Regions from separate parts of the Homo sapiens genome. Here regions 1 and 2 are each linked to region 3. The links come from fine-mapping of genetic effects on gene expression. A gene starts in region 3. Each other region holds a variant in brackets. All regions are shown on one strand. Distances are between the middles of the regions. Region 1 overlaps CACNA1H (calcium voltage-gated channel subunit alpha1 H). Region 2 overlaps CACNA1H (calcium voltage-gated channel subunit alpha1 H). Region 3 holds the start of CACNA1H (calcium voltage-gated channel subunit alpha1 H).

Region 1 (4,591 bases), 65 kb after region 3:
ACACTCCCGAGGGCCAGGTACCACTCCACCAGGTGCTCAGCTGTGCAGAGAAGGGGCGTGGCGTAGGACAGGCCTGGCCAGCCTTGGAGGGTGCGCCGCCCAGCGGGGCAGTGTGTGCAAATGCTGGGGCTGGTGGGTGGCTCACAAGAGAGCCGTGGCAGGGGAGGGGTGAGGCCCAGGCCCACCTGCCGGGACCCCTCAGTCAGCTGCGTGCTGGCCTGGGCCCCGCCATGGGATCTCTGAGGTAGCCGCTGAACAGGGCGGGCCAGAGCCCCCAGGAAGAGCATGCTAGGCCTTGGGGAACCTGCTGGGCAGAGTGTGGAGTGGGCTCTGGGCCAGAGGCTGATGCTCAGGGGCAGGGCAGAGGAAGAGAGAAGCCAGTGCGGGCCAGCACAGAGGGGTGGGCTCTGTCTACCTGGTGAGGTCATGGTGCCCCGAGAGGGGCATGGGGCTGAGGAACAGGGGTCCCCGCCCAGCTCTGGGAACTTGCTTCCACTTGGCCGGGCCCGGAGCACCTGGAAGAAGGTGGGCAGGTGGGGTCTGGTGGCCGAGGCGCCGAGTGCCCTGCAGGGTGGGCTGAGGCCTCCCTGCCCGCCCGTCTGACCCAGCTCTGCTTCTCTCTTGTGTAGGTGGGGAACCTGGGCCTTCTTTTCATGCTCCTGTTTTTTATCTATGCTGCGCTGGGAGTGGAGCTGTTCGGGAGGCTGGGTGAGTGGCTCCTGCGCCCTCCTCCTGGCACACATGGGGTCCTGACAGGCGCCCCTGTGCCCATCCACTCACACGCAGGCACATGCTTGCAAATAGCGTGGGGCCTGATCAGGGCCACACGCCTCCTGGGCGTCCTCACCCGGCCCTGCTTCCGGAGCCTTTTCTGCACGAGGCCGAGTCTCGTGTTGACGCAGAGGCATGTGCCCAGGCTTGTGACACGTGTGCGGACGTGCACACAGCAACACAGACACAGGGATGCCTGCCACACGTGAGGGGAAGCAAGAACACCTAGAGACGTGCACACACAGACATCTGGAAACACACGCCATGCCCAACGTCACATGGTCCCAGGAGACAAATGTTGGCTGTCTCCCCTTACCTGGTGGCCGTAGCCTCCTGAGGCCCCCACCCAGGCCTCAGCCTCGGCCCAGGCTGGGCGGGGCAGGTGGGGACCCTCCTTAGACGGCCCAGCCCTGCCCCTGCCGGGTTCCACTTCAGGCAGCCCAGTCCCTGCAGGGCCCTCCCCCGGGCCCTGTCCCGACGGTGGGTGTGGCGTTGCCACAGTCCAGTGTCTGTCCACCAGGTAAGCTTGATTTTGGTCAGCCGGCGCCTACTCATCCCCCGCCACGCGCAGTCACAGACACACACAATAATGATTCTTCCATGGCAGCCGCCAGGCCTGATGAGCCCCAGCCCAGGTGCGGCAGCAGGGGCCTCGGCCCAGGGGCTCCGACCTCACACCCAGGGTCACCCTCTGCCAGGCAGGGCGAACCGCCAGGGCCTCGTCATCCACATCCTCCGGGCTATCCTGCCTCTGGGCTCCCCAAGGGGCATGTGGAGGCTGGGTGCATGTCCCGCCTCCACCCGGAGCGGGCTCGGCTGACCGGGCGGGGTCTCCCTCCCCGCAGAGTGCAGTGAAGACAACCCCTGCGAGGGCCTGAGCAGGCACGCCACCTTCAGCAACTTCGGCATGGCCTTCCTCACGCTGTTCCGCGTGTCCACGGGGGACAACTGGAACGGGATCATGAAGGTACCCGCCGCGGCCATGCCTCTGGCACCTGGCAGCCCCAGCGGTTTTTCAGGCTCTCCCAGGAACGGGTCGGATCCGTCCTTGCAGGGCAGGGGGAAGGGGACGGCACTGCCAGGGTGGCACCCGCGGGTGGGTGTGGACCCCGGCCCACAGCTGTCCCCCACCGCAGGACACGCTGCGCGAGTGCTCCCGTGAGGACAAGCACTGCCTGAGCTACCTGCCGGCCCTGTCGCCCGTCTACTTCGTGACCTTCGTGCTGGTGGCCCAGTTCGTGCTGGTGAACGTGGTGGTGGCCGTGCTCATGAAGCACCTGGAGGAGAGCAACAAGGAGGCACGGGAGGATGCGGAGCTGGACGCCGAGATCGAGCTGGAGATGGCGCAGGGCCCCGGGAGTGCACGCCGGGTGGACGCGGACAGGCCTCCCTTGCCCCAGGAGAGTCCGGGCGCCAGGGACGCCCCAAACCTGGTTGCACGCAAGGTGTCCGTGTCCAGGATGCTCTCGCTGCCCAACGACAGCTACATGTTCAGGCCCGTGGTGCCTGCCTCGGCGCCCCACCCCCGCCCGCTGCAGGAGGTGGAGATGGAGACCTATGGGGCCGGCACCCCCTTGGGTATGGTAGCCAGCAGGAAGATATGGGCTGGGTGGGAAGCAGGACAGGGAGGAAGATGGGGGCAGGTGGGAGGGAGGATGGGGTCAGGCCAGAGCAGGGCAAGAGGAAGGATGGGCGGGAAGGAGGATGGGGGCAGGCAGGAGGGAGGATGGAGGCCAGATTGAGGAGGCTGGGTGTGGGCAGGTGAGAGAGAGGACGGGTCGGGCTGGGGCTGGCCAGGAAGGAGGATGGTGGCAGGTTGGGGGAGGACGGGGGTGGGTGGCAGCTGGGCAGGAAGGCAGGGGCAGAGCTGCCAGCTTAGATTCTTCCCTGCCCCAGGCTCCGTTGCCTCTGTGCACTCTCCGCCCGCAG[A/G]GTCCTGTGCCTCCCTCCAGATCCCATTGGCTGTGTCGTCCCCAGCCAGGAGCGGCGAGCCCCTCCACGCCCTGTCCCCTCGGGGCACAGCCCGCTCCCCCAGTCTCAGCCGGCTGCTCTGCAGACAGGTAGGAGAAGCCGTTGGCCTGCAGCAGAGGCTGGCGGGGATGGGGGGCTTGCAGGGATGCCTCGTCTCATCTGAAGGACCAGCAGACGAGGACAAGGCAGGAGGAGGGTCGCACTGGGTCCTTGGGGCTCCGAAGGTTTCTGCCTGCTGCTTGGTGGATCTTGGAGCATTGGGCCCAGGTGCGTCTTCAGGCCTGTGAGCCTGTGGCTACAGAGCTCTTGGCTACAGGGACCTGAGTCTTCTTGGACCCACAGCTTCAGGCCCCACGGTGGGCAGACAGCGGTTTCTCAGGTCCCGTGGTGGGCAGACAGCAGTTTCCCAGGGCCCACGGCGGGCAGATGGCAGTTTCTCAGGCCCCATGTGGGCATGGGTCCCGTGGTGGGCAGACAGCGGCTTTTTCAGTCCTGGCTTGTGTTCAGATGTCCCAGCCTTGCCCACCTGCAGCCTCAGCTCCTCTTCCTGCCCTTTCCTACCTCTTGCTGCCCAGTACAAGACGCCTGTACCGCACAGGAGCAGTTAGGAGAGCCCCATCCTGGGGGTGCCCAGCTGGGCTGCTGATGTCCAGGGGTGGGGAGGTGGCCTCAGCCTCAGCTCTGTGCCCCTGGGGGCCATGGCATCTCTGCCCACAGAGCAGCGGGTACAGGCTTTCCCCGGGAGCCTCACAGGTCAGGAGTGAGACTAGGACGTCCACACCAGCGGCTTCCAGCCCCATCTCGAGGGTCAGGAGCCACCCAGGGGACCTGCCCAGTTTGGCCTCTCCAGTACCTGGATGGTGAGGGGTCTCCGAGCCCTGGCCACTGACAGGGCTCTCCCAGGGCCCCGCCCCTCACTTTGACTCTACGCCCCCACAGGAGGCTGTGCACACCGATTCCTTGGAAGGGAAGATTGACAGCCCTAGGGACACCCTGGATCCTGCAGAGCCTGGTGAGAAAACCCCGGTGAGGCCGGTGACCCAGGGGGGCTCCCTGCAGTCCCCACCACGCTCCCCACGGCCCGCCAGCGTCCGCACTCGTAAGCATACCTTCGGACAGCGCTGCGTCTCCAGCCGGCCGGCGGCCCCAGGCGGAGAGGAGGCCGAGGCCTCGGACCCAGCCGACGAGGAGGTCAGCCACATCACCAGCTCCGCCTGCCCCTGGCAGCCCACAGCCGAGCCCCATGGCCCCGAAGCCTCTCCGGTGGCCGGCGGCGAGCGGGACCTGCGCAGGCTCTACAGCGTGGATGCTCAGGGCTTCCTGGACAAGCCGGGCCGGGCAGACGAGCAGTGGCGGCCCTCGGCGGAGCTGGGCAGCGGGGAGCCTGGGGAGGCGAAGGCCTGGGGCCCTGAGGCCGAGCCCGCTCTGGGTGCGCGCAGAAAGAAGAAGATGAGCCCCCCCTGCATCTCGGTGGAACCCCCTGCGGAGGACGAGGGCTCTGCGCGGCCCTCCGCGGCAGAGGGCGGCAGCACCACACTGAGGCGCAGGACCCCGTCCTGTGAGGCCACGCCTCACAGGGACTCCCTGGAGCCCACAGAGGGCTCAGGCGCCGGGGGGGACCCTGCAGCCAAGGGGGAGCGCTGGGGCCAGGCCTCCTGCCGGGCTGAGCACCTGACCGTCCCCAGCTTTGCCTTTGAGCCGCTGGACCTCGGGGTCCCCAGTGGAGACCCTTTCTTGGACGGTAGCCACAGTGTGACCCCAGAATCCAGAGCTTCCTCTTCAGGGGCCATAGTGCCCCTGGAACCCCCAGAATCAGAGCCTCCCATGCCCGTCGGTGACCCCCCAGAGAAGA
Region 2 (4,488 bases), 57 kb after region 3:
CAACCTGCTGGTGGCCATCCTCGTGGAGGGCTTCCAGGCGGAGGTGAGGGGGCAGGGAGAGGGGCTGCCAGGAGGAGGGCGATGAGAAGAGAGACGGGCTTCAGGTCGAGGGGAGGGGTGTGGGGGGCCTGCCAAGAGGTGAGGGATAGAGAAGGGAAGCTGGCTGCCATGAGGAGAGGGGAGGCCAGGAGCCCAGCGGAGTGGGCAGGGGTCGGTCGGGAGAGGCAGATTCCTCACCTACCTGCCCACCCTGGCAGTGACATCATCCTCTGGGCCCTTCTGTCCACACCCCACCTCCCAGGCCAGCCCAGACTTCTGTCCGGCATGAAGGGTCCCCACTCACGGGGCCCCTCATGCCTGCCTTGTGCTTTGTTGGGTTTAGGGCGATGCCAACAGATCCGACACGGACGAGGACAAGACGTCGGTCCACTTCGAGGAGGACTTCCACAAGCTCAGAGAACTCCAGACCACAGGTGCGTGTGGTCGGTGGGTGGTCCGGGTTCTGGCGGGTGGAGTACGCTGGGCTGGCCGGGCAGGGCCCCCATAAGGCAATCCCTAGGTTGGGGGATTCCTGGTCCTGGGAGCCTGGCAGCTCTAGGGGCCCATTCCTCCCTCTGTCCCGCAGAGCTGAAGATGTGTTCCCTGGCCGTGACCCCCAACGGGCACCTGGAGGGACGAGGCAGCCTGTCCCCTCCCCTCATCATGTGCACAGCTGCCACGCCCATGCCTACCCCCAAGAGCTCACCATTCCTGGATGCAGCCCCCAGCCTCCCAGACTCTCGGCGTGGCAGCAGCAGCTCCGGGGACCCGCCACTGGGAGACCAGAAGCCTCCGGTAGGGACCATCTCCTGCCCCAGCTCTCAGGCCCCTTCAGGTTTTCCCTGCCTGGCTCCTTATGGCCTTCCCTGAAGATGAGTGAGGGCCGCACCCCCCACACCCTTGAAGTCCCAGCCTGTGCAGAGACTGAGAAAGAGTGTTCTGGTTTCCGGAAATGGAAGCTGTGGCTGCTGTTGTGTGAGGCCGGTGTGAAGGGGCAGACGCGGAAGCTCTGTGCGCCCAACAGTCTAGCAGAGTGCACAGCGCACAGCACAGAAAGACCGAAGCAAGCAGGGGCAGAAGCGTGCCCGGCAAGCAGACGGCAGGCCAGGCGGGGGTTCCGCTGCCACCAGAAGCAGCCCGATTCCCTTTACGGCCAGGGCATCTCTCTGGGTCCAGGGGGACTGGAGGGGAGCAGTTTTGAAACGAACTCCAGGCAGTACCACCCACAACAGACACGGAGGATGGGAGTGAGCCAGACGCCCTAGCAGGGGAGGAAGCGGGGCAGCTGTGAGGCAGAGCCGCAGGCCCAGTGTGCTCCTGGGGACACGGGGGCCACCCACACTTTGTCTGGTCCTGGGCTGGTTCTGGCCCCTGACCCAGCAGAGCCCAGGGCATCACCCCCGCGAGGCGGACACCCTGACCCTCATGAGCTACGCCTGTGGCTGGCTCGGTGTCCCCCTAAAATCACAGCCTCCACCGTGCCTCCCTGGCGGGGCTATGCATTAAATGATCCACGTGTGGCTTGCACACAGTGGGTGCTCCGTAATGACAGCGGTCGGTGCTAATAGTGATGCCACCAGGTCACTGACTCCCGCCACCCCCCAGGCCAGCCTCCGAAGTTCTCCCTGTGCCCCCTGGGGCCCCAGTGGCGCCTGGAGCAGCCGGCGCTCCAGCTGGAGCAGCCTGGGCCGTGCCCCCAGCCTCAAGCGCCGCGGCCAGTGTGGGGAACGTGAGTCCCTGCTGTCTGGCGAGGGCAAGGGCAGCACCGACGACGAAGCTGAGGACGGCAGGGCCGCGCCCGGGCCCCGTGCCACCCCACTGCGGCGGGCCGAGTCCCTGGACCCACGGCCCCTGCGGCCGGCCGCCCTCCCGCCTACCAAGTGCCGCGATCGCGACGGGCAGGTGGTGGCCCTGCCCAGCGACTTCTTCCTGCGCATCGACAGCCACCGTGAGGATGCAGCCGAGCTTGACGACGACTC[G/A]GAGGACGTGAGTGCGTGGCCCTGGGCCCACCGCCGACTCGCCTTCGTCTGTCTGGGGCAGGTTCCCTCAAGTGGGGTTTGAGATGGGATTCAGGGCGTGTTGTTGACTGAGGGGATTCAGAAGGGGAGAGAAGCAGGCCAGGCCAGGGAGGAATCCAGCAGTGTTCAGGGATTCAGCCACAGATGATCCCAGAGTCCCCCCTCTGCCGTCTAGGGGCTGTGAGCTAAACGCTCCACGCACGGCCTGCATACGGGGGCTGGGCTCTGCGCCGTGGGTCAGCCACTGGCCGAGAGCTGCTGCCGAGGCAGGGCCAGGCATCCGCTAGGCTCTCAGGCTTCCGTGGGTCAAGGACCACTCCCAGAGTCAGGGACCCAAGAGCACCCGCTCACCTGGCCCCGTGGACTCCAGCACGGGTCACTCTGCCGTCACCAGCGTAGGGAAGGGGGAGGCTCCACGGTATGGGCCCCAGAGGCCAGAAAGCCAGAGCCCAAAGGCCAGCGGGTGAGGAGTGAGGATGGAGAAGGCTGAGAAGGTGCTGGGAGGGGTGGCCGAGCTGAGCACAGAGGGCCCTGATGGGGGGCCGGGCAGGCAGGCGCAGGCTCTGAGAAGCCGCCGCCTCATCCCACAGAGCTGCTGCCTCCGCCTGCATAAAGTGCTGGAGCCCTACAAGCCCCAGTGGTGCCGGAGCCGCGAGGCCTGGGCCCTCTACCTCTTCTCCCCACAGAACCGGTGAGGCGGCCGGGTCAGGAGGCTGCATGGCTAGTTCCACCCCACGGGACCCCCGCCCCCAGGTCCCTCCTGGGTGGGGCTAGCACATGGTGGATATTTCCGAGTGGGCACCCCTTCTCACACCGCAGGGACCGGGGCTGAAGTGGAGGCGTGGCCAGGGCTGTCCTGCAACCCCCATCCACTCTGCCATCCACGCCGCCCCGCCCCACCTCTCACCCGCCCCCGCCCACCCAGGTTCCGCGTCTCCTGCCAGAAGGTCATCACACACAAGATGTTTGATCACGTGGTCCTCGTCTTCATCTTCCTCAACTGCGTCACCATCGCCCTGGAGAGGCCTGACATTGATCCCGGCAGCACCGTGAGTCAGCCAACCCCATCGTCCCGGGCCACCACGACCCCCAGGGAGGGGTGGAGTGGACACAGCCCCCCACCGTCCTCTCCCGGCAGGAGCGGGTCTTCCTCAGCGTCTCCAATTACATCTTCACGGCCATCTTCGTGGCGGAGATGATGGTGAAGGTACCGCGGGGCCCGGGGACTGCCCTTGTTCCCAGGTCCCCGTTCTGCCCTCATCCCCACCCCCACCCAGCAGCGCGCCAGCTCCCCAGACCCCCCACGCCTGAGCCTGAGCTCAGTGCCATTGGCCCTCCGCAGGTGGTGGCCCTGGGGCTGCTGTCCGGCGAGCACGCCTACCTGCAGAGCAGCTGGAACCTGCTGGATGGGCTGCTGGTGCTGGTGTCCCTGGTGGACATTGTCGTGGCCATGGCCTCGGCTGGTGGCGCCAAGATCCTGGGTGTTCTGCGCGTGCTGCGTCTGCTGCGGACCCTGCGGCCTCTGAGGTGGGGGGCTCCCCGTGGGCTCCCGGGGCAACCTGGAAGCACAGTCCCCTGACGCCACTGCCCATTACTCCTCCCGCAGTCCTGGGCTGTTCGCAGGCCGCCCACTCGGCCCCACCTTGGGACCTTTGCTGAGCTCTGCCGGCGCCTGGCAGCTGCTGCCATAGATGACTGCAGTGTATCCTTCACTCCCCTCCAGGGTCATCAGCCGGGCCCCGGGCCTCAAGCTGGTGGTGGAGACGCTGATATCATCACTCAGGCCCATTGGGAACATCGTCCTCATCTGCTGCGCCTTCTTCATCATTTTTGGCATTTTGGGTGTGCAGGTGTGTGGCCCCCACGTGCCCGGGGGTCTGCCCCGTCGCAGACAGGGTCTGCCTTCCCAGCGTGGCTCCCAGCAGCGCCGCTGCGGGACGGGGAGGGACAGCTCGGGCCTCACTCGCGCCCCAGGAAGTCCGGTGTGGGGTGGGGCACAGGCCAGGCCCTCCGCGGTGACCGTCGCACCCCGTCAGCTCTTCAAAGGGAAGTTCTACTACTGCGAGGGCCCCGACACCAGGAACATCTCCACCAAGGCACAGTGCCGGGCCGCCCACTACCGCTGGGTGCGACGCAAGTACAACTTCGACAACCTGGGCCAGGTGGGCTGGGCGGCCGGGCGGGAGCTGGGGGTCTCCAGGACACCCTGGAGCGAGAGGGCCGGCGACCCCAGCTCTAACCCTCGCCAGTGACCCTGGCTCTGGCCCTCAGGCCCTGATGTCGCTGTTCGTGCTGTCATCCAAGGATGGATGGGTGAACATCATGTACGACGGGCTGGATGCCGTGGGTGTCGACCAGCAGGTGCGCACAGGCGGGTCGAGCTGGGTCACCTCAGGGTCTCCCGCGAGCGGCTGCCTTGGCCTCTGGGGAC
Region 3 (4,591 bases):
TTTGCATGGGCTGCCGTTGCTGCTGGAAAGAGCCTCTGCTCCTCTTCCGGCTGCCGGCTTGTCCTCACAGAGGCCCCGCCCTCGTCTATCTGGGCGCCCCCTGGCACTTAGTTTGGAAACTGTTTTCTCCTCCCCATAAGACGGAAGCTGCAGGCATGAGAACCGGGTCTGTCTGGTCACAGCCAAGGCACCTCCACCCTCCAACCGGGCCCCGCGCACTGTCCACCCTCAACTACCATTTGTCCAGCAAATCAACGACAGCCCCCAGCTAGAATCTGGAGCTTCAGTCTGTGGCTTTGCCTTAGCTTTAATTAATTAATTAATTAACTTATTATTTTTTTGAGGCAGAGTCCACTCTGTCACCCAGGCTGGAGTGCAGTGGCGTGATCTCGGCTCACTGCAACCTCTGCCTCCTGGGTTCAAGTGATTCTCCTCCCTCAGCATCCCGAGTAGCGGGGATTACAGGCATATGTCACCATGCCTGGCTAATTTTTGTATTTTAGTAGAGACGGGATTTCACCATGTTGGTCAGGCTGGTCTCGAACTCCTGACCTCAAGTGATCCACACACCTCGGCCTCCCAAAGTGCTGGGATTACAGGCGTGAGCCACTGCACCTGGCCCACCCTAACTTTTAACGAGCAGGGTGTTGATAAAAAGATCAGAGGTTCCAAGTGCCCTCTGGACCGGACTCCGATTCAGCGTTTGTGTCTCCCCACCTGCTCCAGCCTCCCTCCACGGATGTGTCCAAAGCACGGGGCTCTCCTAGGTCCTGCTCCTCTGTGGCTGGAACCTTAATTGGACCTTTGAAGGCCTAATTCACCAGCTGTGGCCCTCCATCGCTGAGTAGTTGCATTAAAATAGACTGAATGTTTTCCTTTTCTTGAAAGTTCCCGTATACAGGAGGAGGTGCTGCTGAAAGGACCTGTACCCCAGCCAGGCCCCCACACTCCTGCCTTCCAGTTCCTCGGCCCACCCCAGGTGCTGTGTGTCCTTCCGGGCCCCAGCTGGGCAGGGCCTCTTCTTCACCCTGCACGATGTGGCCCACCCGGGGGAGGTCCTGCTTCTCTGCTGCTCACCCGCAGGTGGGAAGCCACAGCCGCCCCACAGCCTCTCCGGGTCTGGGGTCTCAGGGTGCGCCCTGGAGCAGGGCCTCTTTGTCTGGAGGGAGAAGGGGTCTCTCCCACTACCAGGGGCCCCTTGTTGGCGGGCGTGCTGAGGTGCACACCTGGGAGCTCAAGCTCCCTGGTGCACAAAGCAGTGGTCCCAGAAGCAAAACCACCCTTCCAGCCTGGAGGGGTGCCCTGGGGGGAGTCAGGAGCCTGGGCACCTGCCCCCACCTGCTGGCACCTCGAGGTGCGGCCAGCCCTCCCTGGGACAAGGGCCTGGCCATCCCCAATGTCTGAAGGGTCCACCCCTTCCCGACCAAACCACTTGCTCTGAGGGTCCAGGGGAAGGCCCTTCTGCTGGCCTGGCTGAAGGAGCAGCTGCTGGCAGGGGGAAGGGGCCTGCACTTCTCCTCGGGGGCCCCTGGGTGAGTCTCGCTGAGGCAGCGGGGTTGGAGGATGCAGGAGCACCAGGCTGCCGTCCCCAGGGTCCCCCAGATCCCCACGCGGGAGGGGACCGGAGACGAGGACAAGTTCGCGGAAACTGCCCGTGCGTGTCGGGGAGAGATGCGAGTGCAGGAGCGCCCAGCCGTAAAGCACACCCCCGCCCGCCCCCGCGCCCCATCACACACGCGCGCGCGGGCACACCCGGGACACACACGCGGCGGGGAAGGGGCACGCAGCCTCTCGCCTTCCACGCCCGCCCGGTCCCCGCCCCTCCGCCGACCCGGGCCCGCGTCGTAGTGGGGGTGGGGGTGGGGGCGGCGGCGGCGCGCGCGGCAGCGCGAAGGGGGAGGGGGAGCCGGAGCGGGAGGGGGAGGGGCGCGGCATCGGCGGCTCGGCCGCCCCCGCAGTTGGGGGCAGGGAAGGACGTAGGTGCTCCCCCTCCCACCCCGCCGGAGCCTCCCGCGAGCGCCCCCTGGTGCACCCCACGCCCGGCATTGTTGGGGAGCACGAAAAGCGGGGAGCCCAGTGCGGGGGCGTGGAGGGGGCGCGGGCGGGGTCCAACTTCCCGCACCCGGGGGGGGGCGGGGCGCCGGGCGGCGACAGGGAGGGGTCGCTCGGGCGCGCGCGTCTCGGGCCGGGGGCGGATCCTCCCCAGTACCCCCCCGCCCGCCCCGCCCCCGGCCCCGCCCCGGCCACGCTGGCCCCGCCCCGGTCGCGCCGGCCCCGCCCCGCCCCGCCCCCCGCCGCTCAGCCCGAAGTTTCCTGCGCCGCGCGCGGACGGGCTCGAGGCTCGCTCGCTGCCTCACCGGTCCCCGGCCCGCGCCCCGCGCCCCGCGCCCCGCGCCCCGGCCTCACCCGTCCGCTCAGCGGCCTCCACGCCGCGCCGAGGCCGCCGCCGTCGCCTCCGCCGGGCGAGCCGGAGCCGGAGTCGAGCCGCGGCCGGGAGCCGGGCGGGCTGGGGACGCGGGCCGGGGGCGGAGGCGCTGGGGGCCGGGGCCGGGGCCGGGGGCGGAGGCGCTGGGGGCCGGGGCCGGGGCCGGGCGCCGAGCGGGGTCCGCGGTGACCGCGCCGCCCGGGCGATGCCCGCGGGGACGCCGCCGGCCAGCAGAGCGAGGTGAGACGCGGCGAGGACGCGCGCCCGGGACCCTCTTCAACTTGCGCGAAGCGGGCCGGGGAGCCCCTCGGGGTGGGGGTGGGGCCGCTGGAGGGAGGGAGGGGGCGGGCGGGGGCGGGGGGCGCGTTTGTCTCTAATAAGAAAAGACAAAGACATCCCGGCGGCCGCGGCTGTTCCCGCAGCTCCGCGCCGCGGGAGGCAGGGCGGGGGCGTCGCCACCGGCCCCGGGTCACCCCCTGTCCTCTGCAGGTGCTGCCGGCCGCCACCATGACCGAGGGCGCACGGGCCGCCGACGAGGTCCGGGTGCCCCTGGGCGCGCCGCCCCCTGGCCCTGCGGCGTTGGTGGGGGCGTCCCCGGAGAGCCCCGGGGCGCCGGGACGCGAGGCGGAGCGGGGGTCCGAGCTCGGCGTGTCACCCTCCGAGAGCCCGGCGGCCGAGCGCGGCGCGGAGCTGGGTGCCGACGAGGAGCAGCGCGTCCCGTACCCGGCCTTGGCGGCCACGGTCTTCTTCTGCCTCGGTCAGACCACGCGGCCGCGCAGCTGGTGCCTCCGGCTGGTCTGCAACCCATATCCTTCCCGGCCGGCGGGGGGCGGGGGGCGGGGGGCGTGGGGAGGGTGGGGGCCCGGGGCGCGGGACTCCCTCGGCATGCGCCCCCGCGCGCCCCTGTTGGTGGGACCTGGCGTGGGCCGGGCGCGCGGGGGTGCAGGGCAGGGGCTGGAGGACCGCGCTCTAATTTCTGAGAGTGGCGGGCTTGGGGGGCCACCGGGCGCCTCCGGACTCCCTTCCCCAGGGCCGGCTCCGGACGGAGAAGGTGGAAGCGAAGCGGTGAGGCCCCCGCGGGCTTGGAGGGGAGAGGAGTCGGGGAGGGAGGGAAGGTCCTAACTCCTCGCGGCCCCAAGGGTGTTGGCCAGGACGGGAATTTCCCCCTTGCCCACCCCTCACTGTCTGAAGGTCCTGCCCGAGGCAGGCCCCTCGCGGGGGAGGGGGAGGCCAGAGGAGCTGGAGTCAGGGGCGCAAAGTTTTCAGCCGGCGCCTGGTGGTTCCGAGTGCGTGGGGAGACCCGTGGGGCCTGTGAGCGCCGCCAGGGCCTTTTCCGTGGAGAGAGGCGGTGACGTTGGTTGTGAACTCGCTTTTTCTGGCTGAACTCGGTGGCGGGGCTGACTTAAGTCATGCGCAGCTGAAGGGTAGGGGGCAGGGAGGCAATTGGCACTGCCAAGGGGGAGTCTCATCTCCCCAGCCCCTTCCCTGGCTGGAGAGGAAGAGGCAGCCTCTTCTACTCTCGGCCAGAGCGGCACAGACTGCAGAGAAGGTTCCAGAACAGAGTTGGGTCAGGGCCAGGGGCATTTGTGGGATGTACACGGAGGTCCAGGGGGCCCCCCAGCAGGTGGCCTTGGGGGCGGGTCTCCGCGTGCCCTGAGAAGGGCCTTGCGTGGTGCCTGTGTCAGGGCCGGGTCTCCCCACCGGCCCTTCTGAGCCGGCAGCTGGGGTGGCCAGGCCGTGGCTTCTGCTCCGGGCCTGGGGACGGGTGGAGAGACCCTGCCCGCAGACGTCCCCCGTCGGAGGTGGGGAGACAGGCTGGCAGCAGGAGCGGCCTGTGTACACTTCCCTACCTTGTGTGTTTAACTGTACAAATATTAAACACGAAAGAGGAATCTGTACAAAAAAAGTCATAAAGCCCGTGTTTCTCCTTTCTCAAATCCAAACATCGAGTGAGTCAGACTCATCTCTGCTTGTAGAGGAAGAGGAGGCTGCTGTGGTCCCGGGGGCAGCCGGCCCCGGCCAGAGGGCTGCCTCGGAGCCCCACACCCGCTGCCCGGGCGGCCTAGGCCTCTGTAGCCTCAGGGTGGTGTCTGCGAGTAGGTGGGTGTCCCCGGGAGCCGAGGTGCAGGCCCGGCCTTGAAGAGCGGTTGTAGGTTTGTCTCCTCT

What was found. PIP is the estimated chance that this variant, and not a neighbour inherited with it, causes the effect. A credible set is the group of variants that fine-mapping cannot tell apart.
Region 1: its variant is the best candidate, but not a certain one, in a credible set for the expression of CACNA1H in whole blood (TOPMed, PIP 0.56).
Region 2: its variant is fine-mapped to the expression of CACNA1H in whole blood (INTERVAL, PIP 0.99).

Annotation. Positions count from the first base shown.
Region 1 is chr16:1,216,303-1,220,893 of GRCh38, forward strand. CACNA1H (calcium voltage-gated channel subunit alpha1 H) reads left to right here. Exons shown (of 35, transcript NM_021098.3): 31 at 630-708; 32 at 1,617-1,738; 33 at 1,908-2,349; 34 at 2,668-2,828; 35 at 3,679-4,591. Among named protein-coding and RNA genes, the nearest start is that of TPSG1, 6.7 kb to the right of the region's middle. The variant A/G (reference allele first, on the strand shown) is at 2,701.
Region 2 is chr16:1,207,388-1,211,875 of GRCh38, forward strand. It overlaps CACNA1H (calcium voltage-gated channel subunit alpha1 H), which reads left to right. Exons shown (of 35, transcript NM_021098.3): 14 at 1-43; 15 at 383-473; 16 at 626-834; 17 at 1,645-2,025; 18 at 2,648-2,748; 19 at 2,983-3,106; 20 at 3,196-3,264; 21 at 3,400-3,584; 22 at 3,781-3,907; 23 at 4,094-4,219; 24 at 4,329-4,418. Among named protein-coding and RNA genes, the nearest start is that of TPSG1, 16 kb to the right of the region's middle. The variant G/A (reference allele first, on the strand shown) is at 2,019.
Region 3 is chr16:1,150,806-1,155,396 of GRCh38, forward strand. It overlaps CACNA1H (calcium voltage-gated channel subunit alpha1 H), which reads left to right and starts at 2,301. Exons shown (of 35, transcript NM_021098.3): 1 at 2,301-2,665; 2 at 2,915-3,231. The coding sequence starts at 2,933. RefSeq lists enhancers at 1,200-1,780, 3,155-3,922.